Linked DNA regions of Homo sapiens. The protein of the gene in region 2 purifies or fractionates together with the protein of the main gene of each other region. This does not show direct contact. Each region holds a gene or a part of one and is shown on either strand. Other genes may lie near its edges. The genes, in order: ZMYM4, ZSCAN5A, ZMYM2 and OBSL1.

The links.
Region 1: the proteins of ZSCAN5A (region 2) and ZMYM4 purify together in Homo sapiens (affinity purification with mass spectrometry; 5 studies listed by BioGRID and IntAct, with this or other methods). This does not show direct contact.
Region 3: the proteins of ZSCAN5A (region 2) and ZMYM2 purify together in Homo sapiens (co-immunoprecipitation; 4 studies listed by BioGRID and IntAct, with this or other methods). This does not show direct contact.
Region 4: the proteins of ZSCAN5A (region 2) and OBSL1 purify together in Homo sapiens (co-immunoprecipitation; 3 studies listed by BioGRID and IntAct, with this or other methods). This does not show direct contact.

The regions. Positions count from the first base shown.
Region 1 is NC_000001.11:35,271,607-35,279,008, forward strand, and holds part of ZMYM4 (zinc finger MYM-type protein 4), read left to right. Parts: intron 1-7,402. UniProt on the Homo sapiens protein: Plays a role in the regulation of cell morphology and cytoskeletal organization.
Region 2 is NC_000019.10:56,304,627-56,312,028, forward strand, and holds part of ZSCAN5A (zinc finger and SCAN domain-containing protein 5A), read right to left. Parts: intron 5,829-7,402; exon of another isoform or gene 5,523-5,828; coding exon of another isoform or gene 5,498-5,522; exon of another isoform or gene 2,734-5,497; coding exon of another isoform or gene 1,615-2,733; exon of another isoform or gene 205-1,614; coding exon of another isoform or gene 167-204; exon of another isoform or gene 1-166. Other genes in the region: EDDM13 (epididymal protein 13 precursor), read left to right, coding at 167-204, 5,498-5,522; uncharacterized protein LOC124900420, read left to right, coding at 1,615-2,733.
Region 3 is NC_000013.11:20,059,567-20,066,968, reverse strand, and holds part of ZMYM2 (zinc finger MYM-type protein 2), read right to left. Parts: intron 5,917-7,402; coding exon 5,745-5,916; intron 4,124-5,744; coding exon 3,998-4,123; intron 2,519-3,997; coding exon 2,424-2,518; intron 119-2,423; coding exon 1-118. UniProt on the Homo sapiens protein: Involved in the negative regulation of transcription.
Region 4 is NC_000002.12:219,561,516-219,568,917, forward strand, and holds part of OBSL1 (obscurin-like protein 1 isoform 1 precursor), read right to left. Parts: intron 6,810-7,402; coding exon 6,540-6,809; intron 6,455-6,539; coding exon 6,203-6,454; intron 6,061-6,202; coding exon 5,758-6,060; intron 5,612-5,757; coding exon 5,315-5,611; intron 4,000-5,314; coding exon 3,727-3,999; intron 2,113-3,726; coding exon 1,840-2,112; intron 1,160-1,839; coding exon 887-1,159; intron 494-886; coding exon of another isoform or gene 369-493; exon of another isoform or gene 207-368; intron 1-206. UniProt on the Homo sapiens protein: Core component of the 3M complex, a complex required to regulate microtubule dynamics and genome integrity. It is unclear how the 3M complex regulates microtubules, it could act by controlling the level of a microtubule stabilizer.

The DNA.
Region 1 (7,402 bases), on a different chromosome or scaffold from region 2:
TGGCCAGGCTGATCTCGAACTCCTGACCTCTGGTGATCAGCACACCTCGGCTTCCCAAAGTGCTGGGATTACAGGTGTGAGCTACCGGGCCTGGCCCAAAAGTTAATTTTATTTTTAACAACCTATAACATACGCAGGACTTGTATAGGTTTCCCCCATTATTTTGCCAGTTTCATCACAGAGGAAAATTACATTCATTGATTTTTGGAATTAATGGTGTGGTGGCACATGCTTCTAGTCCTCGCTATTCAGAGGTTGAGGTGGGAGCATTGCTTGAGCCCAGGAGTTGGAGGTTGCAGTGAGCTATGATATTGCCACTGCTCTCCAGCCTGGGTGACAGAGGGAAACCCCCTCTCTAGAAAAAGTAAAAATAATACATAAATAATATTTTTTGATCCATAATTCATTTTGTTTTTGATATTTCATTAGAATGTTCGGTATGATTGTCTTAAATGATATAAGTACTTTTTTCCACTTTTTTTTGGTGTGTGCCAAATTACATGTGGATTCCATATGTATACTCCAAGCCGATTAATGGGGACTATGCAGTACCATGTCTTTGGAAATTGACTGCCTTGAGGGAGTTGAAACAAACTATCCACATAGACTTAGATAGTAACTTTAGGCTATTCAATCTGAAATTGCATTGATGACATGGTATTGTACTTAATGATGCTTACTGCTTTTGACCTTTGTAATCATGTCACAAAAAAGTTGCTAAGCACCTGTGCTATTTCATAAGCTACATGCTAGGCATTGTGCTTTGTTACTTAGGGTCATTTAGGATAATATATGCTGGCTCTCTTGATAAATTGTGAACTCCTTTAACATAGTATCTATTTCATTGCTTTTTGCGTCTGGACATCTTGTGACCTCTACACAGTAGGAACTCAAAAGACTTGCTGACTTATTTTTGTAAGAATAGCTTACCTAGTACAGCAGAGGCTCTATGGGTTGAGTACCAAGTTCTCTGCTTTGTAATTTTGAGGGGCTCTGTAAATCTTTCATAGCGTCCTTTACTCCCCAGAGTTCTCTCCTATGGATCCAGATTTAGGGATCTTCTGATTGTTCTGGATTATGGTTAGATGGGCAGGTGACTGCATTTTTTGTTGTTGTTTTTGAGATGGAGTCTTGCTCTGTCGCCCATGCTGGAGTGCAGTGGCGCTATCTCAGCTCACTGCAAGCTCCGCCTCCCGGGTTCACGCCATTCCTTCGCCTCAGCCTCCCGAGTAGCTGGGACTACAGGCTCCCACCACCATGCCCGGCTAATTTTTTGTTTCTGTATTTTTAGTAGAGACGGGGTTTCACCATGTTAGCCAGGATGGTCTCGATCTCCTGACCTCGTGATCCACCCGCCTCGGCCTCCCAAAGTGCTAGGATTACAGGCGTGAGCCACCACGCCCAGCCGGTGACTGCATTTTAAGACCATTGGGTTAACAACCTTAAATTCTAGGTAGGCCTGCCTGATGTCTTGTTTTTATATTTGTGGGCAGTCGGAACACTTGTATTCAGAATATGCTGGAATGCTAGTCTCTCAATTTGTGAACACGGGGGAGCTGAGTATGTGGGTGGATCAGCGCTATATTCATCTATCATCTCTAGTATAGAGAGAATTAAGTTCATATCCTAGTGCCTATACATGAAGGCGTTACAGCAAGCATCACACCCACACAAATACATACACACACACACACTTTAAAGTTGGCATATTATTTAATTTTTTTAGATGATAAAATTTTTGTTTTCTCAAATAGCTTTTAAGACTCATTAGGTAGGCTTATTATAAATGATTGAATTATTTATGCATGGCTATTATAATAACCAGTATGTTATGAAGTATGAGGTCTAACTAAATCGGGCGGCCATATTTTGTTGTAAAATCCTTGTCTTTTCAAAGTTTACATACAAAATAATAACTTTTGTAAATGTAAATATTACCCGGTCTAGTAAATTGTATTCATTTTCATACTTAAAATTCTGTGTGTATTAAATTTGAGATGTATATACCTGGTATGCTTAAAAAAGAGAGAAAGCATATGTATAAGTAGTATGCTTCCATTTTTTGTGAAAAACAAAACAAAACGACCTTTCTTGCCTCCCCACATTTGTGTCTGTATATGCTTGTACATGTATGAACTTAGAGAAAATTGTGGAGGACACAGTTTGGGATATTACCACTGATTACCTTCAGTGGGTAGGGAGGAGAAACGAAAGAGAGTATAAGGGTGCAAATTTCACAAAGTGGAAAAAGTATTCATGGTATAATGCTAAGTGAAAATGTAGACTATAAAATGTTATCTATTAATATATAAATCTGTGAAAATTGAACACACATATAGACAGTAGAAAATACGAACAAATGAAAGCATTGACTTCATGATGTGATGGGATATGGAGAAGTTTTATTTTGAATTTCTGTTATTTTAATATTTTATAATAAAATAATTGCAAAAGATTGATCCCTCTTAATTCCTTAATTAACTTTTTCTCTTTTCTGTCTTTTTGCTAAATGTATTACTTAAAAACATGGCGGTACATATCATTACAATATTTGCGGTTTATATGTATGCAATGTGAATAATTTGCTTTTAGAAAGTATTGACTCTTTGTTTAGAGACCATTTGAAGAGGCCATTCAAATACAGTGATTCTGCATTGTTTTCACACTGCTTCCCATCTTGTAACACACAGAGGGATCTGTAAATAATAATACTTGTGGCTGGGTACAGTGGTTCATGCTTGTAATCCTAGCACTTTGGGAGGCCGAGGCAGGAGGATGGCATGAGGCCAGGAGTTTGAGACCATCCTGGACAACATAGCAAGACCCCATCTCTACAATAAATTAAAAAAATTACCCGAGGTTTAGTAGCCTCGTCTACTCATGAGGCTGAGGTGGGAGGATTGCTTGGAGGATTGCTTGAGCCTAGGATTTCGAGATTGCATTGAACTATGATTGTGCCACTGCACTTTAGCCTGGGTGACAGAGCAAGAGAGACACTGTTTTTTTTTTTAAAAAAAAAAAAAAAAAAGGAGAGGCCATTCTAATACTGAGAATGATTCTGAGTTGTTTTCACACGCTGGTTCTTCCCATCTTGTAATAAGCAGAGACATCTATAAATAATGATAATACTTGGTATTATAAACCCTTAAGTGCCAGTCATTTTTCTAAGTATTTTACATGTGATGTATTTTTCAACCACAATTATTGTCCCATTTTATAAATTAGGAAATTAAGGCACAGAGAGATTTGCTGGAGATATGATGGCTAAATCAGGATCAATTATTACTTGAACTGGTCCTGTTCGATCATATAGGTTAGAACTTTTGTTTATCCAGAAATATTATGGTTAGTGTTTATATTCTCATTTGTAAAATAAAGCACATAATTCTTTATCTGGAATGTATGGATGTTAGAATAATTTGAATTACATTCAAACAAAGTTGATGTAAGTTACTTCTTAGGAATCATTAAGTTAACTTGTTCCCTAAGAAATACATTTTTGTTTGAGATCATCTTAAAATATGTATTCACAGCTCACATTTATTTTTTAGAAAATATACACTAAATATTTTGAAGCTGTGATTTACTTTAAAGATTATGTTTGTACTTTTTTTGACAATGGAAAGATTTTCTTTTTTCTTTTCTTTTTTTTTGAGACAGAGTCTTGCTCTGTCGCCTAGGCTGGAGTACAGTGGTGCCATCTCAGCTCACTACAACCTCCACCTCCTGGGTTCAAGCAATTCTCCTGCCTCAGTCCCCCGAGTAGCTAGGATTACAGGCGTGCACCACAATGCCCAGCTAATTTTTAGACAGGGTTTCACCATGTTGGCCAGGCTGGTCTTGAACTCCTGACCTCATGATCTGCCCGCCTCAGCCTCCCAAAGTGCTGGGATTACAGGCGTGAGCCACTGTGCCTTGCCAGAAAGGTTTTCTTACTAAAGAATATGTAAGTAGATAAATATAAAATTTCAGTTTCTATGGATACTTAAGAGGTATTTTTGAATTCTGTATTAGGAGAACAGCCACTATTTAAAGAAAAGTGATATTTCCCTTAAAAATTCTGATTATTTTACTATGAGCTAACTGTATGTACTTACTTTAGCAAAGGAGAAAGGCAAGTATTGTATAAATGTACTGTATTCAACCCAACAAAATTGCTAATACTTGACCATTTGACTTAAAAAAAAATGACACTTTTATGTGGCTTAGCCATTAGCAGGAGCATGGGTTTTTCAAAGTCAGTTTATGGTATAATCTCTGGAATTTAGCAATTTTGGGGTAGTAATAGTTCTTATCCAACCTTCTCATACCTATACCCACTTTCTTGTACTTAGGAAATATTTATATTGTTATTTTAATTTCATTCATATCATCTTTCTGGCCTCCTAGAAGCTTTAATTAGCTGCCTTTGACCAAAGATAGTCCTTTTTTTTGTTTTGTTTTGGTCTATCCAGCGTATAGAACCCAGCACTGTCAGTTCTTTGAGAACCCAGCACATATCAAGAATCATATGTGTTTTTCTTTCTTTACACTTCCCAATATGTCTTACAAATGTATTTTAATACTGACATGCATATTATACATTTATAAGCCAAAAATTAATCTACTATTCCTGTCTCATCTAACTACTCATTTCTGTCCCTCCCTCCCTCCCTCCTTCCCTCCCTCCCTCCCTTCTTTCTTCCCTCCTTTCCTTTCCTTCCTCCTTCCTTCCTTTTTTTCCATAGTTGAAATAATTTCAAAGAAATAACACACATCACATCATTTAATCTATAAATACTTCCGTGTGTATTTCTAACAGATAAGAATTTTTAACAAGCACAACCACAATACTGTTACGACCTAACAAAAGAGTTCCTTAATCCAGTCTGTGTTCAGACTTCTCTTATTCTTTAAGTGTCTTTTTACACTGATTTGTTTAAATCATCCAACTAAGAGTTACACATTTCATTTAGTTTATATGTTTCTTAAGTTTTTCTTAACCTTAATCACCTCCCCCCACCTTTTTTTTTCTTTTTGAAATGGAGTTTTGCCCTTGTTGCCCAGGCTGGAGTGCAGTGGCGTGATCTTGGCTCACTGCATCGTCCGTCTCCTGGGTTCAAGCGATTTTCCTGCTTCAGCCTCCCGAGTAGCTGGGATTATAGGCATGCACCACCAGCCTTGGCTTATTTTGTGTTTTTAGTAGCGACAGGGTTTTGCCATGTTGGCCAAGCTGGTCTCAAGCTCCTGATTTCAAGTGATCCACCCGCCTCCGCCTCCCAAAGTGCTGGGATTATAGGCATGAGCCACTGCACCCAGCCAATAATCCCCTTTCTTAACTCATACCCCCTGTGCTCCTTTCCCATGCTATTTATTTGTTGAAAAAAATAGGTTATTGTTCCAGGATAATTTTCCACATTTTGGATTTGGCTGATTGAATCCTTGTTATGGTATTTAACATGTTCCTTTACCCCTCATATTTCCCACAAATTAGTAGTTAAATACAGAGCAGTGGTTCTGAACTTTGGCTAAAACTTTAGAATTATCTGGAGAGCTTTTAGTTATCCTGATCCCTAGGCCACATCTCCGATAAATTAATCAGAGCCCATGAGGTAAAATGTCATCATCAATATTTTAAAAAATTTACCAAGTGATTTCAGTCTGTAGCCAAGATTGAGAGCCCTAGTTGGTAGAGCTTGATGAGTTTAGGTTCAGTTTCTTTGGCAAGAAATATTTATAAAGAGTGGTTATATAATTTATTTGCAATCAGACAATTTTGAGAATGAAAGGGGGTGCTATAATGATTACACAGAAGGAATAGTTTAAACTGGAATTGTTCTAGACAAATTAGGATTTATAGTCATTCCATTAGATGGGGCTGTGAATTCTTGTTGGATCGTTCTAGGAGGTAACTTAAGTGGTGGTTCTACTTTTAGTGATACTAAATGGATCATTTGGTTTAGGTTCTGTCAGTGGGATCCAAATGTAATTTATTTTTAACTTTTCACTTAATGATAATTCTTGCCTATATCCATTATTTCATTAGAAGAGTGATTTTTTTTGGTCATTTCTTTTGTATTTATTAACTGGAATTCTTTCATAAAGAATTCCCTCATCAATTATTTGGTTACCTTGTAATACGGTTTGTAAAGAAAAAGCAGGATAAATGCTTATTTTTTTCCCCTTTATCAGTAATTTTCAGAAAAATGAATTGATGCCCGCCCTCACAACTCCCAAAGGTGAGGTTTGGGAGGGAGTATCATTAGGAACTCATGAGTTTTACCATATGTGATACATTCTAATTTATCATAGTCATTATTTTTGGTGTTCAATTTGTTGTATCTTTGATGATTGGCGGTCTCTTAAATTAGTTTCCTAAGGCTGCCAAAAAACTGCTACATACTTGGTAGCTTAAAACATCAGAAATTATCTCACAGTTTTGGAGGCTAGAAGTCCAAAATCAAGGCTCTAGGGAAGAATCTTTGCTTGTCTCTTCTATCTTCTTGTGGCTTGGTTGGTATTCCTTGACTTGTGGCGGCAAAACTCCTGTCTTTGCCTTCATCTTCCCTTGGTCTTCTTTCTGCATCTTCTTTTCTGTCTCTTAGGGTCTACCTTATTCCTGGATGTTCTCAGCTCAAGATCCTTACCATAATTACCTCTCCAAAGATCTAGTCTGCTCACATACTGTGGTTCTGGGTGGACATAACTTTTGGGAGCCACAGTTTAATACACTACAGTTCTTTTTTTGACCCCTAAAACTTCATTTACATCCCATATGCAAAATAAATTCACCTCATCCCAACATCCTCAAAAGTCTCGACCTATTACAGCATGAACTCTGTTTTTTTTTTTTTTTTTTAGATGGAATTTCACTCTCTCGCCCAGGCTGGAGTGTAGTGGCAGAATCTTGGCTCACTGCAACCTCTGCCTCCTGGGTTCAAGCCATTTTCCTGCCTCAGTCTCCCAAGTAGCTGGGACTACAGGAGCGTGCCGCCATGCCTGGCTAATTTTTTGTATTTTTAGTGGAGACGGGGTTTCACTATGTTAGGATGGGCTCCATCTCCTGACCTCGTGATCTGCCCGCCTCGGCCTCCCAAAGTGCTGGGATTACAGGCATGAGCCACCATGCCCAGCTACAGCATGAACTCTTAAGTCCAAAATCTCCAAATATTATAACCTCAAAAAGTTTGAAATCTCATTGTCTTAAATCATCTAAATTAGGTAAGAGTATGGACTCGGCATGATTCATTTGGGATAAAATTCTCCATCTGTGGACCTGTGAAACTGGAAAACAACTTATCTGCTTCCAAAATACAATGATGAGAGGATGAGACAGCTGTTAAGATAGACATTCCCATTCAAAAGGAAGAAAATGGAAAGAATAAAGGATCTCCGGTTTCAAGCAAGTTCAAAACTCAGCAGG
Region 2 (7,402 bases):
ATAGAGAAGCAAGACCAGAAGATGTTACAACCAGAGGGAAAGAGCAGAGGGGGAGGACGGGAAAGAAGCGAGAGGGGGATGGGGAGAAAGGGAGGTAAGGAAGGAATTCACTCGCCTCACCCCAACTGTTTCTTTCTCTGTTCCCAGTTCACTTTTTCCTCCCAAGTGTTACTGCCACTACTGTAACTTGGAACTGGACATCAGGTATGCTATGGCAGGGAAGTGGGCTTTTCCCACCGCTGGGGTGGGGTTAGGGGAGGTTCATCCCAACTGCCTGGCATTTGAGGTAAGGAACACAGGTGGATTTGGAAGCTGCAATCATAGAAACCCAGAATTCCATGAGAAGTCCCAAGTTCGTCACCCTTACTTGCAAGCCACTGCCTGACAGGGGCAAGGAAACACATTGTAAATGACAGGGATGTGCCGGGCAGGAGGAACTCCTTTATAAATTCACTCTATAATTTTTTCACAAGTCTTAGGACTTGTGGCCCAACACACACGACATAAAATTAACCATTAGTGACATTCAGTACACTCAAAATATTGTGTGGCCATCACCACTAATCTGTTTCCAGAATCTTCTCATCATCCTAAAAGGGAACTCTGTACCAAGACATCGTCTCTTCCCCCTGTTCCTGGCAACCACTAGTCTACTCTCTGTCTCTGAGAACTCACCTACTCTGGTCATTTCATACACATGGAATCATACACTACGTGGCCCTTTGCATCTGGGTTTATTCATTTGGCATAATATTTCCAAGGTTCATCATGGTATACCTTGTATCAGGACTGTATTCGTTTCTGCTGGATAACACTCCACGGCATGGACATAGCACACTTTGTTTATCCATCATCAGGTAAAGTGCACTGGGTTGCTCCCACCTTTTGACTGTTGTGAGTCGTGGTGCTATGAACAAGTTATGTTAGAATATCTGTTTTAAAATCTTTTGGGGTACAAACTAGGAGTGGAATTGCTAGGTCATATGATAATTCTGTGTTTATAACGACCCACTGATGCATCCTGGATGCAGTAGTGAACGGGGCAGACAAGATTCCTGAGCTCACAAGAAAACAATTAGATGATTACAGGTGATACTTAGAGCTAGAGGAAAAGCTGAGGATATGATGAAAAAGAGAACTAAAGAACCTTGCCCTGGATAGTTGGGTGATGAAGGAAAGCCTCTTTAGGAAAGTGACAATGAATCAAAGGCCTGTAGAATGAGGGGTTGTCAGATACACAGAAAACAAGTGAAAGAGCCTCCAGGTGAAGGAACTGGCTTGTACGAAGGCCCTGGGGTGGAAAGTGGCCTAGATGTGCCTGGAGTCAGAAAGAAAAATGGGGGCAGGAGAAGGGGGAGGGAGTGGGAGGGCACTATGGGAGGAGTGTGGGTGACATGCTCAGCAGACCACCTCAGACCTGGAAGATTAGAGCAAGCATTTTAGACCCAACCTTCAGAGCCATGGGAAGCCACGGAAAGGCTGTCAGTGAGAAAGAGACACGTCCCAGTGACATGAAGTGTAGAGGCCAGTTAAGAGGCTACTCAGTTTCCACGAGATGACGGTAGCCTGGTCAAGGCTAGGGTCCAGGGTACGGAGAGAAAGTACGAAAGACAGATGGGAGGTTTCTCTTCCCTCGATAGCTGCAAAGAGGGTCCCCCTGGCCTCTCCCGCATCGCCAGAGAAAGTACTAAGGACAGATGGGAGATTTCTCTTCCCTTGATAGCTACAAAGAGGCTCCTCCCTGGCCTCTCCCACGTCGCCAGAGAAAGTACTAAGGACAGATGGGAGACTTCTCTTCCCTCGGTATCTGCAAAGAGGGTCCCCCCCGGCCTCTCCCCTGTTGCCAGAGAAAGTACTAAGGACAGATGGGAGATTTCTCTTCCCTTGATAGCTACAAAGAGGCTCCTCCCTGGCTTCTCCCACGTCGCCAGAGAAAGTACTAAGGACAGATGGGAGATTTCTCTTCCCTTGATAGCTACAAAGAGGCTCCTCCCTGGCCTCTCCCACGTCGCCAGAGAAAGTACTAAGGACAGATGGGAGACTTCTCTTCCCTCGGTATCTGCAAAGAGGGTCCCCCCCGGCCTCTCCCCTGTTGCCAGAGAAAGTACTAAGGACAGATGGGAGATTTCTCTTCCCTTGATAGCTACAAAGAGGCTCCTCCCTGGCTTCTCCCACGTCGCCAGAGAAAGTACTAAGGACAGATGGGAGATTTCTCTTCCCTTGATAGCTACAAAGAGGCTCCTCCCTGGCCTCTCCCACGTCGCCAGAGAAAGTACTAAGGACAGATGGGAGACTTCTCTTCCCTTGATAGCTACAAAGAGGCTCCTCCCTGGCCTCTCCCACGTCGCCAGAGAAAGTACTAAGGACAGATGGGAGACTTCTCTTCCCTCGGTATCTGCAAAGAGGGTCCCCCCCGGCCTCTCCCCTGTTGCCAGAGAAAGTACTAAGGACAGATGGGAGATTTCTCTTCCCTTGATAGCTACAAAGAGGCTCCTCCCTGGCCTCTCCCACGTCGCCAGAGAAAGTACTAAGGACAGATGGGAGATTTCTCTTCCCTTGATAGCTACAAAGAGGCTCCTCCCTGGCCTCTCCCACGTCGCCTGCCTTTCATCCTCTCCCTGGCATCCCCAGTGCCCTTTTTACATTAAAAAATGTCAACTCGATCATACGATATACCCCCACCCCCTGCTGCAGTCCTGCTTAAATCCACCAGTGGAAACTCACCAACTATGATGAGTGTCTTTCAAACTTTAAAAGAAAGAAAATCCAAAACACTTTTCTACTGAAATCTTACATGGAATCCCAATATATAAAAAATTCTAAGTTGCTTTTCATTACCAGAGGTACTTTTCCTAAGGTTAACTGTGTGACATTTACTTATTATGAAGTGAGGTGATGAGATTTGCAAGCACAGGGTACAGAAGGCCTCTGCTGTCTTACGTTACTCTCTTTTACCCCGTATCTTGCAGTGTTTCCTTTTAATTGTTCATACGGAGAAAAATCTGAGCCCACAGAGATAAGTCACTGCAAATGCCTAATAGTTTGCCTTGTGAAGTGTACATGCCCTTCAGGTAATACAATTTTTTCCCCAAGGTCTGTATGTAAAACATGCAACAGGTTGGTGTGGCTCTCCAGTGAATAAAAATTTCAGTCCATGTGCTATATTTTGGGTACACACCTATTTTAAAAAATAGTTTAATTTTTGAAATGAAAATCAAAGCAAACCTTTGTGGAATTCCTAAAAGATCCCAAGTTTTCAGGGAACCTGGCAGGAAGCCTCTGCCCCATTGATCAAGTTCAGGTCTCTGGCATGGTACCCAAGGGTTCTCAGGCTCCAAGCTCCTCCTGCTTCTCTAAACTTTTCTCCACTTCTCTTGATCCCCCCACCCACATTCCATCCCCTGTCCATATTAAACCTTTTTTTTTGAGACAGGGTCTCGCTCTGTCGCCAGGCTGGAGCGCAGTGGCGCAATCTTGGCTCACTGCAACCTCCGCCTCCCGGGTTCAAGCAATTCTCCTGCCTCAGCCTCCCAAGTAGCTGGGACTACAGGCGAGTGCCACCACGCCCAGCTAAGTTTTGTACTTTTAGTAGAGACGGGGTTTCACCATGTTGGCCAGGATGGTCTCGATCTCTTGACCTTGTGATCCGCCCGCCTCGGCCTCCCAAAGTGCTGGGATTACAGGCGTGAGCGGTGGCTCCCAGTCTTTTTTTTTTGAGATGGAGGCTCACTCTGTCACCCAGGCTGGAGAACAGTGGCCCAATCTCAGCTCACTGCAACCTCTGCCTCCCAGGTTCAAACGATTCTCCTGCCTCAGACTCCCAAGTAGCTGGGATTACAGGCATGCACCACCACACCTGGCTAATTTTTGTATTTTTAGTAGAGATGAAGTTTCACCATGTTGTCCAGGCTGGTCTCGAACTCCTGACCTCAGGTGACCCACCCACCTCGGCCTCCCAAAGTGCTGGGATTACAGGCATGAGCCACCACGCCCCCCCATATTAAATCATTTCTGATTCCCCCCAAAACATCACATTTTTTTTCCCGCTCCATTATGCCATTGCACACATTGATTCCTTGATCTCTGTCTACCTAGAAAAGTCCTCCTCAGTCCTCAAGATTCACCTAAGCAATGCTTTGGTTCAGGAACCAACAGCAATCCTTCAGATTCCACTGGGGAGGATGCTGAAGGAAATGAATGGTGTTGAACGGTTTCTCAGGCTCTCTTCAACCATACATTAAAGCACCGGTCAAACCAGATAGTTATTTTCATATAAAGGTGTGCTTTCAACCCATTAGGCAAGAGGTTGGCAAACTTTCTCTGTGAAGGGCCAAATATTACGTGTTGGCTTTTCAGGTCATATGGTCTGTTGCAACTACTCTAGTCAAAGCAATCGTAGAGAATACACTGATGGCTGTGACTGTACCCAACAACTGATGAAAGGATAAACAAAACGTAGTGCATTCATACAATGGATTATTATTCAGCCCCCAAAAGAGGAATGGGGTCCTGGCACGTGCAACAACACGGCTGAACCTTGAAAACACTGTGCTGAGTGAAAGAAGCAGACACAAAAGATCACACAGTAGATGATGCCATGTATATGAAACAGACAGATCTGGCAAATTCAAAGAGACAGAAGGCCAATTACTAGTTGTCAGGGGCTGAGGGGAGGAAGGAACAAGGGGAGTGACTGCTTTTAATGGATTTCTTTTTTGGGTTGATGAAAATGTTCCACTCTTAGAAGTGACAATTGCACAACATGGCGAATGTAATGAAGGCCACTAAATTGTGCCCTTTCAAAATGGTTAAAATGGTGAATTTTATGTTATGCATTATGTTTGCATTTTACCTCAATTACAAAAAGAAACTTTATTAAAAGGGATGCAGGCTGCAGTTGGCCCTGCGGAACACAGTTTGAGGGCCCCTGCTCACATAGACTGTGAGCCCCTGTGGGAGCAGGAAGTACCCCTGATCCATCCCTGGAACTCCAGCACCCAGAAGCAAACCTTAAGGTTCTCTTCCTGCAACTCTGAGTGACTCCAGCACACCAGGCTAGGGGGTGCAGCCCAGCCAGGCCTGGGCAGTCCCTGCTCCTGCGGGGCGCGCCCTCTAGTGGGAGGTAGGGGTGCAACACAAGCTCAGGCCCGGCGCCGGGACAGTGAGGAACTGGAGGGGGCGCTGCTTCCCACTGGCTGGTTTCTAGAAGAGCCCTGCTCTGAGGAGGAGACACTTGCCCTGGTGATGGGGCAGAGCTAGGGTCCATAAGATCTGAGGGAAGCGTGTTCCAGCTGCTGGAACAGCCCGGTGGGAATAGGGACAAACTTGGTGGAACCTAGTGAGTGGGGAGAATGGGCTAAGCTGGAGGGAGGAGGTGGGCTTGAGGCAGGTCACAAAGAGCCCTGTAGAGGTGGATGGAGAGGGCACCAGGCAAGGAGTATGAGAATGCATGAAGACGAAAATCAATGCACAAATACATTTCTCTCTCCTTTCTTAGGGATGATCCCTGCTGTTCTTTCTAGTGAGCCTGCTCCATCTCAGCTTAGCCTTCACAAGGCCTCCATCTCCCAGGCATTCTAACCTCTGAAGAAAGCTCTCTGTCCCCTGGACTGCCTGTGTGGAGGGTAATGAACTGGGTCCTTTAAGGAATGGCACCTGGGTGCCCAGAGGCATGGCCAGAAGGTGTCTGTGGGGGCCATGCCTTAGGGGGATGCACCCAGGGCGGCTGAGAGAGCAACTGCAGGAGTTTCCCCTAAAATCTCTCCTCCAGATCGTTCTCGAACTTTCCCCACTACTTCCATAATAAAATGTATACTTGTTGAAATGGCTGAAAAGGCTGGGTTATTCCATTCGCCCAACACTGAAAACTAACAGGTATGCTGGTGGATTACCAAGAATCAAACGCTATCAGTTAACTGTGCACTTTACAGGTGAAGACACTACAGCTCAGAGAGACCGATGGCTCGTCCAACATCACACTAAGCTACACAGCTGAGATTTGACCCAGTTGGACTCATTCCAAAGTCCGTATTCTTTTGTGTAAAGATTTGGGGCTGCCCCCACCGTCCTGAGGAAATACAGTTGTGAGGATATGGCTGTTCCAGGAGGAAGCCGTATCCAGCTCTCCAGCCTGCATGTTTCTTGCCTATTCTGGAGGAGGTTCCTTGTCCTGGTTGAAAGCTTTGGCTCTGGAGACAGGTTTCTTGGGTTCGAATCCCAGCTCCACCCCTTAATAGATATGCAGGCTTGGGGAAGGTATTGTCTCTTAATGCCTTATTTTATCATCTGTAAAATGGGGATAGTAACAGTAGGGTAGAAGTTCTCTTATCATCATGATCAGAACCATCACTGGTTGGTTCATCAAATAAGTTGGTTCCAATAGGTAATTAAAAATACTTTTACCATTTTGTTTTAAAACATAAAATTGTACAGGCATTTGCTAATCTTTTGATATAAGACCAGGGGGTTTCGTTGTTGTTGTTGTATAGGTCTATGGACCTACAATTTCCAGTTTGTCCCTTAAAAGGGCAGCGGAGACACAGGCATGCTTGCAAAGCTATTTAAGCAAAATCCTCACTGCATTAAAAAAAAGAAAAAGATCATCCCTATAGCCATCTTGCTCATTCCAACTTGACATATTTTTTGTTGTTGCTCTTATTAACAATCGGCCTTTATCACATCTTTCCCACTGAATTACTGTTTTGGGTGGAAACAATTCTTTGCTGATGCACTCATATTTTCCTCATTTATGTTAAATGTAATTGCATTACATAATTGAAATAAAATCCATTAGAATGAAAAGGTTTAGAATAAATGCAACTCAACTAGCTCTGGGTAGTCACACAACTGAACCAATAGAGAAGAATGAAGGCATATTAGAAAGCACTGCACTAGCCAGGGGCATTCAGTGAGCCTGAAGCATCAGTTGGTATATTTCATAGACGGATGGAAAATTCTTTTACCCCAGGGATCATTTTAAAGTGGAGTTTAAGAAACAGTCTACTGAGTTTGCCTCATAGAGGTAAAGTTTAAATGAGATAATATATATATATTTTTAAGTTCCACGATACATGTGCAGGCTGTGCAGTTTTGTTACACAGGTAAATGTGTGCCATGGTAGTTTGCTGCCCCTATCAATCCATCACCTAGGTATTCAGCCCAGCAGGCATTAGCTATTTTTCCAATGCTCTCCCTCCCCACAATCCCATACCCCGACAGGCCCCAGTGCGTGTTGTTCACCCCTATGTGTTCACGTGTTCTAAATAAGATAATATTTCTAAAACACACTGCCTGGCACATAGTTCTCAATTAATGTATTGTTATTATCTAGGGCAGTGTTATCCAATAAAAATCTGTGAGCCACACTTATTTCACACTTCCTACTAGCCCAGAAGCCCGGTAA
Region 3 (7,402 bases), on a different chromosome or scaffold from region 2:
TGACCCAGTGTTTCCATGCATTTACGCCATACGTATATTTGAAAGGAAAGCTGCATTCTGAATTGTCAGAACTATCATCATGAGACTGGTATCCTGATACAGCCTTTCTCTTGGCTCCCTATTAGTAAAAAACACCATAATAATATCTTTTTTAAAGCCTACATTATTTCATTACTTTATACAAGCCATCTCTCAACAAAGGCAAATTACAATTGACCCTTGAGCAACATGGGTTTGAACTGCAGGGGTCCACTTGGACACGTATGTTTTTCTGTGTGCCTGCCTCTCCAACCTCCTTCTACCTCTTCCAATCGTGCCACCTGAGACAGCAAGATCAACCTCTCTCCTCTTCCTCCTCAGCCTACTCAACTTGAAGACAATGAGGATGATCTATTTCCACCTAATGAATCGTAAATATATTTTCTCTCCCATATGATTCTCTTGATAACATTTTCTCTAGCTAACTTTATTATAAAAATACAGTATGTAGCATATAAAATATGTGTTAATCAACTGTTATCAGCAAGGCTTCCAGTCAACAGTAGGCTACTAGTAGTTAGCTTTTTAGGGAGTCAAAAGTAATACATGAATTTTTGACTGTGCAGGGGGGCTCAGTGAAGAGTAGGCTACTAGTACTTAACTTTTTAGGGAGTCAAAAGTTATACACAAATTTGTGACTGTGCAGGGGGGATCAGAGCCCAACCACTGCATTGTACAACGGTCATCTGTAATTACAAATATAGTTATCTGTTTAATCTGTCATAAAAATATAGTTATTTGTTTAATGTGTCATGAAATTAGAAAAGAAAAAATGAAATATAGGTATTTGCTTTGAACTGACTGGTATTCCTGAATCTGACAACAGTCAATTAATATTCCAGGAAATGTGATGTTTCTACATAAATCACTTTGTGCAACAAAATCATATTAAATTCTGTGGTGAGAGTCACCAATGATGAGAAAATAAATATAAGACAATAAACTAATAATCTAAATATTACTGTAACAGAAACTGAAGAACTTTTCAACAACTCCACCTTATAGAGAGTGACACTTAAGTACTTTTCACTTTTTTATTTTATTGTTTTATTTTTGTTTTTTTAAGACAGGGCCTTGCTCTGTCACCCATGCTAGAGTTTTGTAATCACGGTATCTCCCCTGCCAGGTAAGTATCCATGCTGGAGTTCTGTTTTGAGGAGAGGTCTTGCTCTGTTGCCCAAGCTGGAGTGCAGTGGCACGATCATAGCTCACTGCAGCCTCGATCCTCCTCCTGGGTAGCTGGGACTGCAGGCACGTGCCACCATGCCTGGCTGGTTTTTATTTTTTAGTTTTTGTAGAGGTCTCACTATGTTGCCCAGGCTGGTCTCAAACTCTTGGGCTCCACCAATCTTCCCGCCTCAGCCTTCCTGAGTGCTGTAAGTGCTGGGATTACAGGTGCCACTGTGCCTGGCCCCCTTTTCACTTTCCTGATGGCACTGTTTGCAATGCAAAAGTTTTTAATTTTGATGTAGTCCAGTTTATTTATTTATTTTTCCTTTTCTTCCCTGTGCGTTTGGTATCTTACCTAAGAAACTGCCTAACATAAGGCCATTAAGATTTAGGCCTATGTTTTCTTCTAAGAGTTTTATATTGTTAGCTCTTACATTTAGGTCTATGGCTCATTTTGAGTTAATTGTTGTGTTTGGTGTCAAGCAGAAGTCCACCTTCATTCCACTCCAAGTATTCTCTCCCTTTTCCGGTTTTTTTTCTTTCTTTTGGGGACAATTTGTGAAAGCTATCTTTCTTAAGGTATTTTTAAAACCTGCTTTATGTTGGAAGTCAGAAACACAGAAAGTTGACAGAATATTATAACAATTACACTTGTTAATGCATGTAGATTTGGTCTACCTGAATGATCAAACTGTCCAGCATGTCTTTCTATGTGTGTTGGTATGCCTAAAAGAGACCAGAAATAATAAACTGTGTACTTCAACCCCACTGATCATCTCATCAGAAATAATCGTGGAAAAAACAGCTCCCTAGAAAACAGTCTAAATTTTTGTCAAATAATTGAACTTACTACTTTAGCAACTGTTTTCTATTTTGACCTTGTATCAATACAAGTTTAGTTGAGGTATCAACTAAATCTGAGATATTTTTATTACTTAGAAACAGTAATAAATTATTACTAGAAATAAATTATTACTACTATTATTACTAGAAATAGTAATAATTACTATTTCTATACAAATAGAAATAGTAATAAATAATAGTAATAAATAGCAGTAATATATTATTACTATATTCTATATAAATAGAAAATAAATTATTTTCCAACCTAGAAAACAAAATATGTTCCCATATTCTCAGGCACACTAAAAGAACACTGTATCCTTGTTTGCCTATAGAGAAATATTGTTATATAGGCTATTAAGTGAATGTACCTTTTTTTTAGATCGAGGTCTGGGCTGTTCCTCATATTCTTCGCCAAAAACAGGTGGTAATAAAAATTCATTTTCCATATCAAGCTCCTCAGCAGCTGACAACCAAATCAGAACTTTTATTTTAAATGAAATAGCACAGGGTTACATAAACACAGCCAACAAAGAACTAACCACAGGATGTAAACCAGCATTCATACATGGGGACAATCTAGGCTGGGCTGGGGAGTAAATGACTCATTGTACCTAACATGGTTTGTGAATTCTGACAAACACTGTTCAAACTCCTAAAAACATATATAAAATGAATATCAACATAAAATTTTCATGAAAATGTATGATACCAGAAAAATTATTATAGTCTGAAATCCAATTACAAGATCTAAATGGTCTTGGTACAAATCTGATTCAATCTATTAAATGTTTTTTCCAAAAACTAATGTTTTACATTCTACTCAGTGTGCTCATTAGCCATCCATGGATTAAGAAAATAATGAAAAATGGGGCACACTTATTTTACAAAAGACCTGAAAATAATTTTTCCTTTGAAGGTGAACTTAATTTTCAAAGGATCTTAAAAAAAAGCTAACTATATATATTATATATATAAAAACTATATAATATATATAAAATATATATTATATATAAAATTATATTTATATTATATATTGTATATATTTATATATTATATACATCATGATGTATATAATATATAAAATTATATTTATGTATTATATATATTATATATTTTTTATATATATATATTTTTTGAGACAGAGTTTTGCTCTTGTTGCCTAGGTTGGAGTGCAATGGTGCAGTCTTGGCTCACTGCAACCTCCGCCTCCTGAGTTCAAGCAATTCTGCCTCAGCCTCCCCAGTAGCTGGGATTACAGGCACTCACCACCACGCCCAGCTAATTTTTGTATTTTCAGTAGAGACGGGGTTTCACGACGTTGGCCAGGCTGGTCTCAAACTCCTGACCTCAGGTGATCCACCCACCTCGGCCTCCCAAAGTGCTGGGATTACAGGCATAAGCCACCGCACCCAGATGCTAACAACATTTTTAAATTAAAAAGGACACAAACACTTCTTTAAACTTTCTATAATGAATTACTTCTAGAATTTTTTTTTTTTTTTTTTTTTTTAAAGACAGGGTCTCACTCTGCTGCCCAAGCTGGAGTGCAGTAGCACAATCTCGGCTCACTGCAACCTCTACCTCCTGGGCTCAAGCAATCCTCCTGCCTCAGCCTCCCGAGTAGCTGGGATTACAGGCATGCACCACCACGCCTGGCTAATTTTTATATTTTTAGTAGAGACAGTGTTTCACCACATTGCCCAGGCTGGTCTTGAACTCCTGGACTCAAGTGATCTCATTCCAGAAGTTAACTGTTAAGGTGGGTTTTTAAAAAAAAACAACAACAAAATATGAAGTTAACTCTTAAGGTGAGTTTAAAAAATAACAAGAATAAAAAATATGAACACTGCTAAAAGGCAATGACACAAACATCAAATGGTAAATGATCATAACCACAGTTGACTCCATAACTAAATTCCATAGTCATAAAGGTTTTGAGTACCTCTGGGAAAATCTATTTCGATATCCAAATCTGGTTCATATGGTACATCAGGCATGCTGGACTGTGTCTCTGGGTCAGAGTTCTTCAAAAGGTCTGAACCAATTATATCTGTTTCAATAATTACACCTGAAATCAATCCATATTATCATTAGGAATCAAAACAGAAAACCCCAATGGTATCTGTATTTAATCTGGCAAAAGCAAGTCATTTAATTTTAAATGCAATATAAAAAAATACGTATAATGTCACAAAAGAAAAGGGCATATTATATATATAACTATCTCAAAATGTAAACCACTATAAACCTCATAATTAGTCACAAGCACATGAAAACTTTTAATCCTATAAATTTTACAGGAGGACTCCCTTCAAAAGCTAATAGGTATGCTTTGATAGTAAAACAACTTCAACAAGTAAAGTATTTCTAAAAGCAACTTTTTGTCAAAAATAAACTAATGAGGGTAGACAACTGTAGTTTTCAATACTCTTTGAATTTTGACCCAGGTTTCTCAGATTGTTCAATATATGCATATTAACAACTGCCTTTTAATGGTTCGATCAGTTGCTTTCAAGTGTTTTTGTGTTGTAATCATGGCAAGAAATGCATTTTATCCAGCACATACTGCAAGGTGATGGTGGGGAACAGAAAGACATCTGTATACACACTGGTTTCACAAAATAATACTTACCCTTTCTATGAGGGATTCACACTGTCATTTCTCTTACCCTATTCCACTTAGCTTTTTCTTTTCTTAAACAAAAACACTGGTTGCAACCCACTAATTTCACAACTCCTTACCACAGTGCTTCAAAAACACTGTCTCATTATTAAATCCAGAGAAAATTATAGTATTTTGATTGTCCTCTAGGGTAAGGGTAAGAATTAGCTCAAGGTTGAAATAGGACTTTGGGTATCAAGAGAGGGTTAAGGGTGGAAAATAAATATTCTAAGTGACTTAGAACCATCCACAACACACTCATCACGTTATACCATGTAGCGCAAGCACTGCCCTAACAGAGGTTAAGATAAACTCTGGTTTAGATAATGCAAATTATTTTATTAGTATAAGCAATAAAAGAAAACTAGGGGCTGGGTGTGGTAGCTCACACCTGTAATACCAGCACTTTGGGAAGCAGGTGGATCACCTGAGGTCAGGAGTTTGAGATCAGCCTGGCCAACATAGGGAAGCCCTGTCTCTACTAAAAAGACAAAAATTGGCTGGGCGTGGTGGCACGTGCCTGTAATTCCAGCTACTCAGGAGGCTGAGGCAGAAGCATAGCTTGAACCCAGGAGGCAGAGATCTCAGTGAACCGGGATCATGCTACTACACTCCACCCTGGGCAACAGAGCAAGAGTTCATCTAAAAAAAAAAACAAAACAAAACAAAAAACTAGGGATAACTATTACAAAATAAGAGTTTTGATCATCATTAGAGTCTACTACAAGTTATTATAGTTTTGCATCAGCACTACTCCATTAACAAGAATAATTTTGAGTTGATTTTACAAGTCAAATCCTGCTTAAAACAGAGACCAAAGACCAAATTCCTGCTTCGGATATCTGTCTGAGGGCACCTGGCTAAATACAGTGTAGATCTCTTAATATAAAAAACATTTTTGTTACAATGCTTTCCTCACCCCCACATAAGTTGAAACAAAATGATATGCCCTGGAAAGTACTGTAACAATACTTATAAATAACCAATGTTAACACTTATTCGCAAGGTATAATTTAGTGTAGCTCACTGTTGATGTTGGTTGTCTCTGTTTTCCCCTCGTCTTCACTCATCATATCCGTCATTGTAAGCAACTCTGTATCAAGAGCATCTGAAGAAACCTTGCTTTTTAGCTCCTCAATTGCTGCAGGAATCTTCTCACTGCTGTCCAATGGAGCAGGCAGAAAAACAGGAACTGGCACCTAATTAACCAAATCATTTTGAGTTAGGTTTACTAAACATTAAAAGGTATTTTTCCAAATTAAAAATTACTCTGACACATGATCTACTTTGTAATATCACACTGGATAAAAGCTTTGAAAAGAACACATACAAAACTAAGATGTTAACTGTGATAAGAAAGCCTAGAATACAAGCATCTACTTTTTGGAATTCAAATTAAAGAAAAAGAATTTTTGAAGTATTTCTGTCCCCCAGGGGACTATAATAGCCAAGCCCTGACACAGTGTTCTTCTAAGTACTGCAAGTGATTTGGGATAAAATAATATTTTATATGAAATTCTATGTTTCAGTTCTAAACCTTATGGCTTCACAAATATTTTTCTTTTTTTTTTTTGAGATGGAATTTCACTCTTGTTGCCCAGGCTGGAGTGCAATGGCGCTATCTCAGTTCACTGCAACCTCCGCCTCCCGGGTTCAAGCGATTCTCCTGCCTCAGCCTCCCCAGCAGCTGGGATTACAGGCATGTGCCACCATGCCCAACTAATTTTGTATTTTTAGTAGAGAGGGGGTTTCACCATGTTGGCCAGTCTGGTCTTGAACTCCTGACCTCAGGTGATCTGCCCATGTCAGCCTCCTAAAGTGCTGGGATTACAGGCGTGAGCCACTGCACATGGCCCACAAATATTCCTTTTGAAAATGAACCCAAATATAAACTTAATATGCACAGAGCAGGCACAGACATCCGCGAAATGTCACTCTCGAGGATGAACATATACATACTATACACAAAGCAATCAATCATGACAACAGAGATTCAACCAAATCTAAGTTAACTGTCGAAGAAAGGTAAAGATGGTTTTATTAGCTTCATTAAACTAGTAACTGCAACTAGAGTTATCCTCAGTATTCTAGGGGATTGGTTCCAGGACCACCTGTGGATGGATACCAAAGTCTATGCATACTCAAGTTCCACACCCCTACAGTCAGCCTTCTACACAGATTTCACATCCTCAAATAATTTTTTATTTTCATTTTTTTTGAGATAAGGACTTGCTTTGTAGACCAGGCTGCAGTGCAGTGGTGCAATCACGGCTCATTGCAGCCTCCATCTCCCAAGCTCAAGCAATCTTCCTACCTCAGCCTCCCAAGTAGCTGGGATTACAGGTATATGCCACTGTGCCTGGCTAATTTTTACATTTTTAGTAGAGACAGGGTGTCACCATGTTGCCCAGGCTGGTCTTGAACTCCTGGGCTGAAGATACGCCTACCTTAGCCTCCCAAAGTGCTGGGATTACAGGCAGAATACTGTATTTTCAGTCTGTGTTTGGTCACGGATGTGGAACCTGCCAATATAGAGGGCCGCCCATATTTATTGGGGAAAAAAAAAAATCATCCACATATGTGGATGCATGGAGTTCAAACTCTTGTTGTTCAAGGGTCAACTGTACACTGTTTTCCCAACTGTGTCTGCTAAATCTCAAAATGAGAAAGAACTTAAAATGTGAC
Region 4 (7,402 bases), on a different chromosome or scaffold from region 2:
CTCAACAACCCATGCTCTAAGATCCTGGAATGCGTCTGGCTTTCCTGCCAGGCTGTGCAGTCCTAGAGGGAAGCGGCCGTGTCTGCGTGCTGCTGGCTCCCGTGTGTGGAAGGGTGACTTTCTCCCAGGCCTCCCTGACCCTCCTGCTCTGTGCTCTTGAGCCCTCTGCCCTTGGCCCTCACAGTACTTATCACCAGGTGTCACTGTACATTTATTTGCATGTTTATTGGTTTAACACAGGGGTCGCAAACTCAAATGCCCACAGGGGCCAGGTTAGGTTAGCGGCTGAAGCAGTCTGGGGAGAGGCAAAAAGCAATGGCAGGGAGGTGGGACAGAGGAATGTGGGCCCCAAACTATGGGGGCAGCTGCTACTCAGTGCCAGCTGTTCGTCGCCATGGGGGGAAGCGGGACCAGAGCCGCCGGGTCTTCGGCTTTTTCAAGAGGACGCATAACTCCGGATTGTTATTTGAACTGTCCTGACTTTGGTAAGACTCTGCAGACCAAACAAAGCACATGTGTGGAATGCGCAGGGCCCCAGGACTACCCGTTTGCGACCCCTGGTTAACAGCTGCCTCCTCACCTAGCCTGGCAGCTCATTCAGAATAGGGACCGTATTTGCATTACTCACCTGCTACTCCCAGTGCCTGATTCAGGGAAAGTGCTCAGTAAATGAGCTGTGGAGCAGAGCTAGGCCTGGCCTTGGGCACCGGGGAGGGGCTTGTTTCCTTGAATAGGGGCCCTGGGCTCATCTCAGCAAGAACCCTGGCACATGCACCTGCAGCCCACACCTCCCTCCTCCCCGGGGTGCTAGCTGGGGCTATGTGGCCAGCTCCTCCAGGGCTCAGGGCTGTCTCTGTGACCCCGGGGAGCTGGGCTGGGCCCACACCTGTGACGGTGACAGTGAAGGAGGCCGACTCATCGTCAATTTCACACAAGTACTCGCCGGAGTCCTCGAGCTGGACAGCGGGCAGCACCAGGCGGCGGACAGTGTCTTCCTTCTGCAGGAGCAGCGCGGGGCTCTCCACCACCTCCTCTCCATCCTTGGTCCAGCGCACCTCTGCCCAGGGCCGGCATAGCTCACAGGTCAGCACCACACGCTCCAGGCGCACGGCTGCCACATACACCTTGCCGCTGGGATACACGATCCACGAGGAGACGTCTGGAGGACAGGGACAGCCACTGCCGGGCATGAGGGGTGTGCCCTGCCGTCCTCCCTGACCCCGTTGTGTTCCCTACCCCTGGAAAGTAGGCCATGTGTTGAAGAGGGACCTTCCTGAGACCAAATCTCACAGCAGCTGACAGTTACTCACAGCTAGAGACACACGAATACAGCTGTCACAAAAGCACAGCAGACTTTCTGCTGCGCAGGAGCTGCACAGAGGGGACCACGGGGTCAGCCTCGGCTGTAGAAACGCTCCACATTCTCTGGGTTGGGACAGGGACGGTATGAAGGGTGGAACTGATGAGAGGAGGGTTGGGGGGAGGAGCTGGGGGTCTCCTCCTCCAAGATGTTTTTGCCCCCCTAGTGCCTGAGACCACCAGCCCTAGACTCTGCCCTACCCTGCAATAGACTCACTGTCCCCAGAGATTTCCCTTGGTACAGGTTTTCAGGAGAATAGAGAAAGCCAGGCTTCCTTAGCCAAGACCAATGTGCTTATGATAACACGTTTCCTGAATGTGACTAGACCATAGCTTGAGGAGAAAGGGAGGAGGTCCGATCTGCCAGGGGGAGGGCAGTAGGGGCGGGGAACAGTGGCCTGGGAGTGAAGGTGTGGCAGCTGTTCCAGTGGGAGCAGGGGCACCTTCCCCTGTGCCTCCGAGGCCCACCTGGCCCCCCACCTGTGATGGTGACAGTGAAGTAGGCACACTCATCTCCAGCGACGCACTGAAACTCGCCCCCGTCTGAGGGCTGGGTGGCGGGCAGCACCAGGCGGCGATGGGGCCCCTCATTCTCCAGCACCACGAAGTCACTCTCCTCCACCTCCTGCCCGTCCTTGTACCAACGCACAGGGGCGTCCTCTCGGTCCACCTCACAGGCCAGCATGACACACTCGGAAGTTATGGCATGCACGAACACATGTTCTCGGGGGTCCACGATGTGCACGGGAGGATCTGGGTGGGAAGCAGAGATGGCATTGCACAGACACCCCCGCACAATGAGTCCAAACTAGCTGTGTGGCCAGGAGACACTGTTTCTGCACAAGAGGACACTGGAGGAGGGCTAAGGTCCTGCTGTGTAGGGACTCAGGGACAATGACAAGGAATGCTGAGGGCATGGCAGGTGAGGCATGGCAGGAGATCATGTGGCACCAGAGTGCTCTGTAGGTCCCCAAAGGATCAGAGGTGGCGGGGTGAGTACATAGAGAGAAGGAAGCACAGAGAGTTCACAGAGTGGCAGCCACCATTTGTCTAGGCTGAAGGGAGGTCACTGTCACAAGTCACATCAGGGCCATGCTTACTGCCTCTATTACGAGAAAGACCCCAGGGTGGGCAGGAGGTGAAGGATGATCCAACAAGTGGCAACAGTGAGACAGCCACTCTCCAGGTAGTGGGTTCCCTGTCACTGGGTGCATTCAGGCAGGGGCCACAGTGTGGAAAACAGGACTCCCACTCAGTGAGATGAGTGGGATCCATGGTTCCCAAGCTGCTCTCTCAGAGAGTCTGCACTTGTTAGGAAAGGATCTTCAGGCTCCACCCTGGATACTGGGGCTCTGGACAGTCCAGGGATTTATAACCAGCTTCCAGGAGCTTCCTAAAGCAGCCAGCCTACGGACTGCCTTGTGAGAACCACGGGGTGACTGCACTCGATGCTTCTGTTTGACTCTATCTGAGGCAGCAGGAACAGAACAATCCTGTGTGTGTCGCCAAGCTATGGTGTGACGGAGGTCACATAACCTCTTACAGCCTCCATTTCTTTGCCTGTGAACTGGAGATATATTGCCCCTCATCGAGTTGTGAAGATTAAATGAAAGAGTGTATATTGAAAATACTTAGCATAGTGCTTGGCTCAGAGTAAGTGTCCAAAAAGTGTTTGCTCCCATCTCTCCTCCCCTTAATTGCATTTTGTTCCCCCACCCAACCCAGCAGAGGCTATGTGGACAGCGAGACAGTGTTAGTGTATCAGGGGTTTAGGAGGCAAAGGCACGCTGTGCGTGGCACACACCTATAATCCCAGCTGCTCAGGAGGCTGAGGAAGGAGGATCGTTTGAGCACAGGAGTTCAAGGCCAGCCTGGGCAACAGTGAGACCCTCATCTTAAAAAAAGAAAGAAAGAAAGAAAGCCAGGCATGGTGGCTCATACCTATAATCCCAGCATTTTAGAAGGCTGAGGCGGGCAGATCATTTGAGGTCAGGGGTGACCTAACCAACATAGTGAAACCGTCTCTACCAAATAATAAAAAAATTAGCTGGGCGTGGTGGCGCGCACCTGTAGTCCCAGCTACTTGGGAGGCTGAGGTGAGAGAATCGCTTTAACCCAGGAGGCGGAGGTTGCAATGAGCTGAGATCACGCCACTGCCCTCCAGCCAGGGCAACAGAGTGAGAGCCTGTCTCCAAAAAAAACAAGAAACAAAAAAGCAAGTGCAGAGTTATCTGAAACATGTCCCCTGGGCCACTGGACTCTCCCTGTAAAGGACTCCCCCAAGTAGGCAGCAGACCAGAGGGCATGGCTTATGCGGCCCCACAATCAGCCTTGGCTGGAGGAGCCCAGGCTGGCATGCTTCCTGACCTTGGACAGTGACGCCGAAGAAGGCCGAGACCCCTTCTGTCCTGCACTCAAACTCGCCACTGTCCTGGACTTTGGCCTCAGGCAGGATCAGACGGTGTTTGCGCCCATCCATCTTCACCACCAGCAACTCGCTCTCCTCCACCTTCTGCCCATCCTTGTACCAGGTTGCCGGGAAGTCCACCCTTGAGAGCTCACAAGTCAGCACCACCCGCTCTGAGGTTGTGAAGGTCAACGACACCCTGTCCTGGGGGCTCAGGATGTGCACCGGGCTCTCTGTGTGGGGAGAAGTACAGATAAGCACCCCTCCCTCCGGTGCATGGGCTCAGTGTCGGATGCATCAGAGGGAACAACTGCTGTTGTTGGGGTTTTTAAAAATAGGCTTAGGCTTCCACACCAACCCTTAAGAGCAGTGCTTTGGCTGTGCATAAGAATTCCTAGGGAGCCTGCTAAAAATGCAGAATTCTTGGATTCCCAAGCACGCAGGGGCCAGGAAATCTGCATTATAAACCAGCCCTCCAGGTGGTTCTGATGTCAGTGAACTGGGATCCCATTTTGGAAATGCTGCTCTGGTTGCTGGTCAGGTCTCACCTGGCCCCTCTGCCTGCGATGCTGACAGTGAATCACCCCAAGACCCCGTGCATGGGTGCCGACAGATTCCTTGATTGGTCTTACAAACTCCAGCAATGGTGACATGGCAAATGCTAGCGTGATCCTTGAACTTTGAGCGCCCCACCTCCAGCTGTTCTCCTCAGGGATGCCTCATTCCCCTCCTTCCCCCTTTCAACAGGTGGCACAGTGTGATCAGGAGCCCGACTGCCTGGGTTCATAATTCAGCACCTGTGCTCATTAGCTCCGTACTTTGAGCAAGTCACTTAACGTATCTGCCTGTTTCCCCAGCTATAAAATGGGAATGTCAAAAGAACCTATCTTAAGTTTGAGATAAGCCTGGCCAACATGGCGAAGCCCCATCTCTACTAAAATACAAAAACAAGCCGGGCATGGTGATGCATGTCTGTAGTCCCAGCTACTCGGGAGGCTGAGGCAGGAGAATCTCTTGAACCCACAAGGTGGAGGTTGCAGTGAGCCGAGATCGCGCCATTGCACTCCAGCCTGGGCGACAGAGTGAGACTCTATCTCAAAAAAAAAAAAAGAACCTATCTTATAGGGCCATTGAGAAGATTGTGTTAATGTATGTAAGGTGATTAGGACTGCGCCTGGCACGTAGAAAGTTGCGATGACAATGTCAACAATTAGACAACATGGCAGGAGGCAGGCAGGGACTAGCAGCCAGGGTCTGTGTCTTTCAAATGAGATGACAAATCTGACAGGATTCTGTAAACCACAAAGCACTCCAGAGAATTGGGATATGATGCTGACATATATCAAGATAACAAGGGGTGCCCTGGATGTTGCATGTGGGTTGAAATTGGCCTTCCGGACCTCTGAGCCCTCAACCTCAGCCCATCATGGATGCTCCTTGCTCTCCTGGCCCAGATACAAGAAATAAAAACAGCATCTGCCTCGTTTTGCCAACAGGACTTCTGTGTCTTGACCCTTTCTGCCCACTCAGGTCCCCACTGGCACCAACCTTGGATTGTGAGGGCAGCTGAGTCCTGCACGCCGGGGCAGCTGAAGCCGACCAGGGCACCGCTGTCCTGGTGCTTGACGGCATGCAGGATGAGTCTGTGCTGCAGACCCTTCTGCTCTATACGGTACCGCAGGGCCCCAGGTTCCACCTGGCCCTCCGGCTCGTTACTCTTGAGCTCTTCCCCATTAAGGAACCAGGTACCCTGGATGATGGTGGAGAGATCGAGGGAGAAGACGGCATCTTCCCCGTCGTATACCTGCACATCCTCCAGACCTGCCACCAGGCGAGCTGTGGGCACTGAGGCAGGGACAGAGTGCAGCTGTCAGAACTAGAAGGTGTGGCAGAGGGCAGAGGCTGGCGGATGGCAAGCCTGTGAGAGGACCAGCACTGAGGGCTGGGGAAGGGAGGAGAAGTGATGGGTGGGTCTGGCAGGACCAACTCACCAAGGTGAGCAGAACCGTGGAACACCACGTGGGGACTACGGCCATGTCCGCTGACTGTGCAGATGCGGAAGCGGTAGTCACCCTCGGAGGGCACACAGTCGCCCGGCACCTCCACGGCTCCGGCTTTCTCGATGCTGAAGCACTGAATCCAGTCTTCAGAGCCCACTTCCTGCCGCTCCAGCCGGTAGATGAATGGGGTCTCGGGAGCTGGCTCGGGAGGCTTCCAGGTCAACAGGACCGTGTTCTTGTGGCCCTTGAACATCTCTGCCAATATGGGGGGTCCTGGGGGACTGTGCTTGACACCTGAGACCAAGGCAGGGATGTGTTCCGGCCTTGCTTGGGCCTCCACAGCCCTTCCACCTTAAATCTACTTCACCAACCCAGCTCCGGCATCTGGCCAACCTCCTGCCCTGCCTCGCCTGTCCAGAGGCCTTCCTGCCCTCACATTTTACTCTGAGAAGCGTAGTGGTACGGGAGTTGCCCAGGCTAAAGGTGACCTCGCCAGCATCCTCTCGGGTGACCCCTGGAAGGACCAGGGCATGCATGTGGCCTGAGCTGCTCTGGCAGATGACCGGCAGCTCCTCCCCATCACGGCTCCAGCGTCCCTCGACCCCGGCCTCTAGAGTTTCCACTAGCAGCACAGCATTCTCTCCTTCCAGGACGTCGAGCTTCCGGGGCAGGCGCTTCAGGATGGGCCCTGAGATGCGGACAGGAATCCATCAACCTGGAATCTGAGCACCTGCCTGCCTCCGCCTCAGCCTCTTCCCCACGGGCCAGCTGACCTTTGACTGTGACGTTGGCCACGGTGCGCACCCGGCCCCGCATCTCGCACAGGTAGATACCATCATCGTCTGCCTTCAGCCTGTGGATGATGAGGCGCCGGACAGTGCCCTCTTCGATCTGCTCGTACTTGCGGCAGGGCAGCAGCCGCTGGTCCTCACGGAACCAGGCCGTGGGGATGCGGGAGTTGGGTACTTTACATTCCAGCACGGCAATCCCGTGCTCACGGCCCTCCACGTCCTGCAGGGGCCGTGTGAACCGGAGGCGGGGCTCTGTGGAGAGGGGAGAGAGAGACAAGAGAGGGCTCTGGAGAAGGCCCAGACTAGGAGTAGGATACCTAGAAGCGCATTAGCTCATGCTGTGTGCTCTTCATGCAGAGCCAGCGGGCACTGTGGAATCACAGAAAACTACCAGAAGGGAAGTGGTGGTTCCTAAGATGACCTGAGTTCTCATCCAGCCCTGACACTAGCCACATCACCTTAAGCAAGTCCATTTCAATGCTTCTGGGCCTCAGTCTCCTTACTTGTAAAATGGGGAAAGGGAGAGAAGGGGTTGGACCAGATTGATGATTTCCAAACTGTTCCCTGGGGTCCTCCAGGCCCTAGATTGGTGATTTCCAAACTGTTCCCTGGCTCCCCCCGCCCCAGTCATTTCACATATTCTGCAAGGGTCTGAGTAGAATTTAAAATATTTTAACTCTTTTTTTTTTTGAGATGGAGTCTCGCTCTGTTGCCCAGGCTGGAGTGCAGTCGCGCAATCTCGGCTCACTGCAACCTCCACCTCCTGGGTTCAAGCAATTCTGGTGCCTCAGCCTCTCAAGTAGAGCTGGGATTACAGGCAGGCGCCACCACGCCTGGCTAATGAT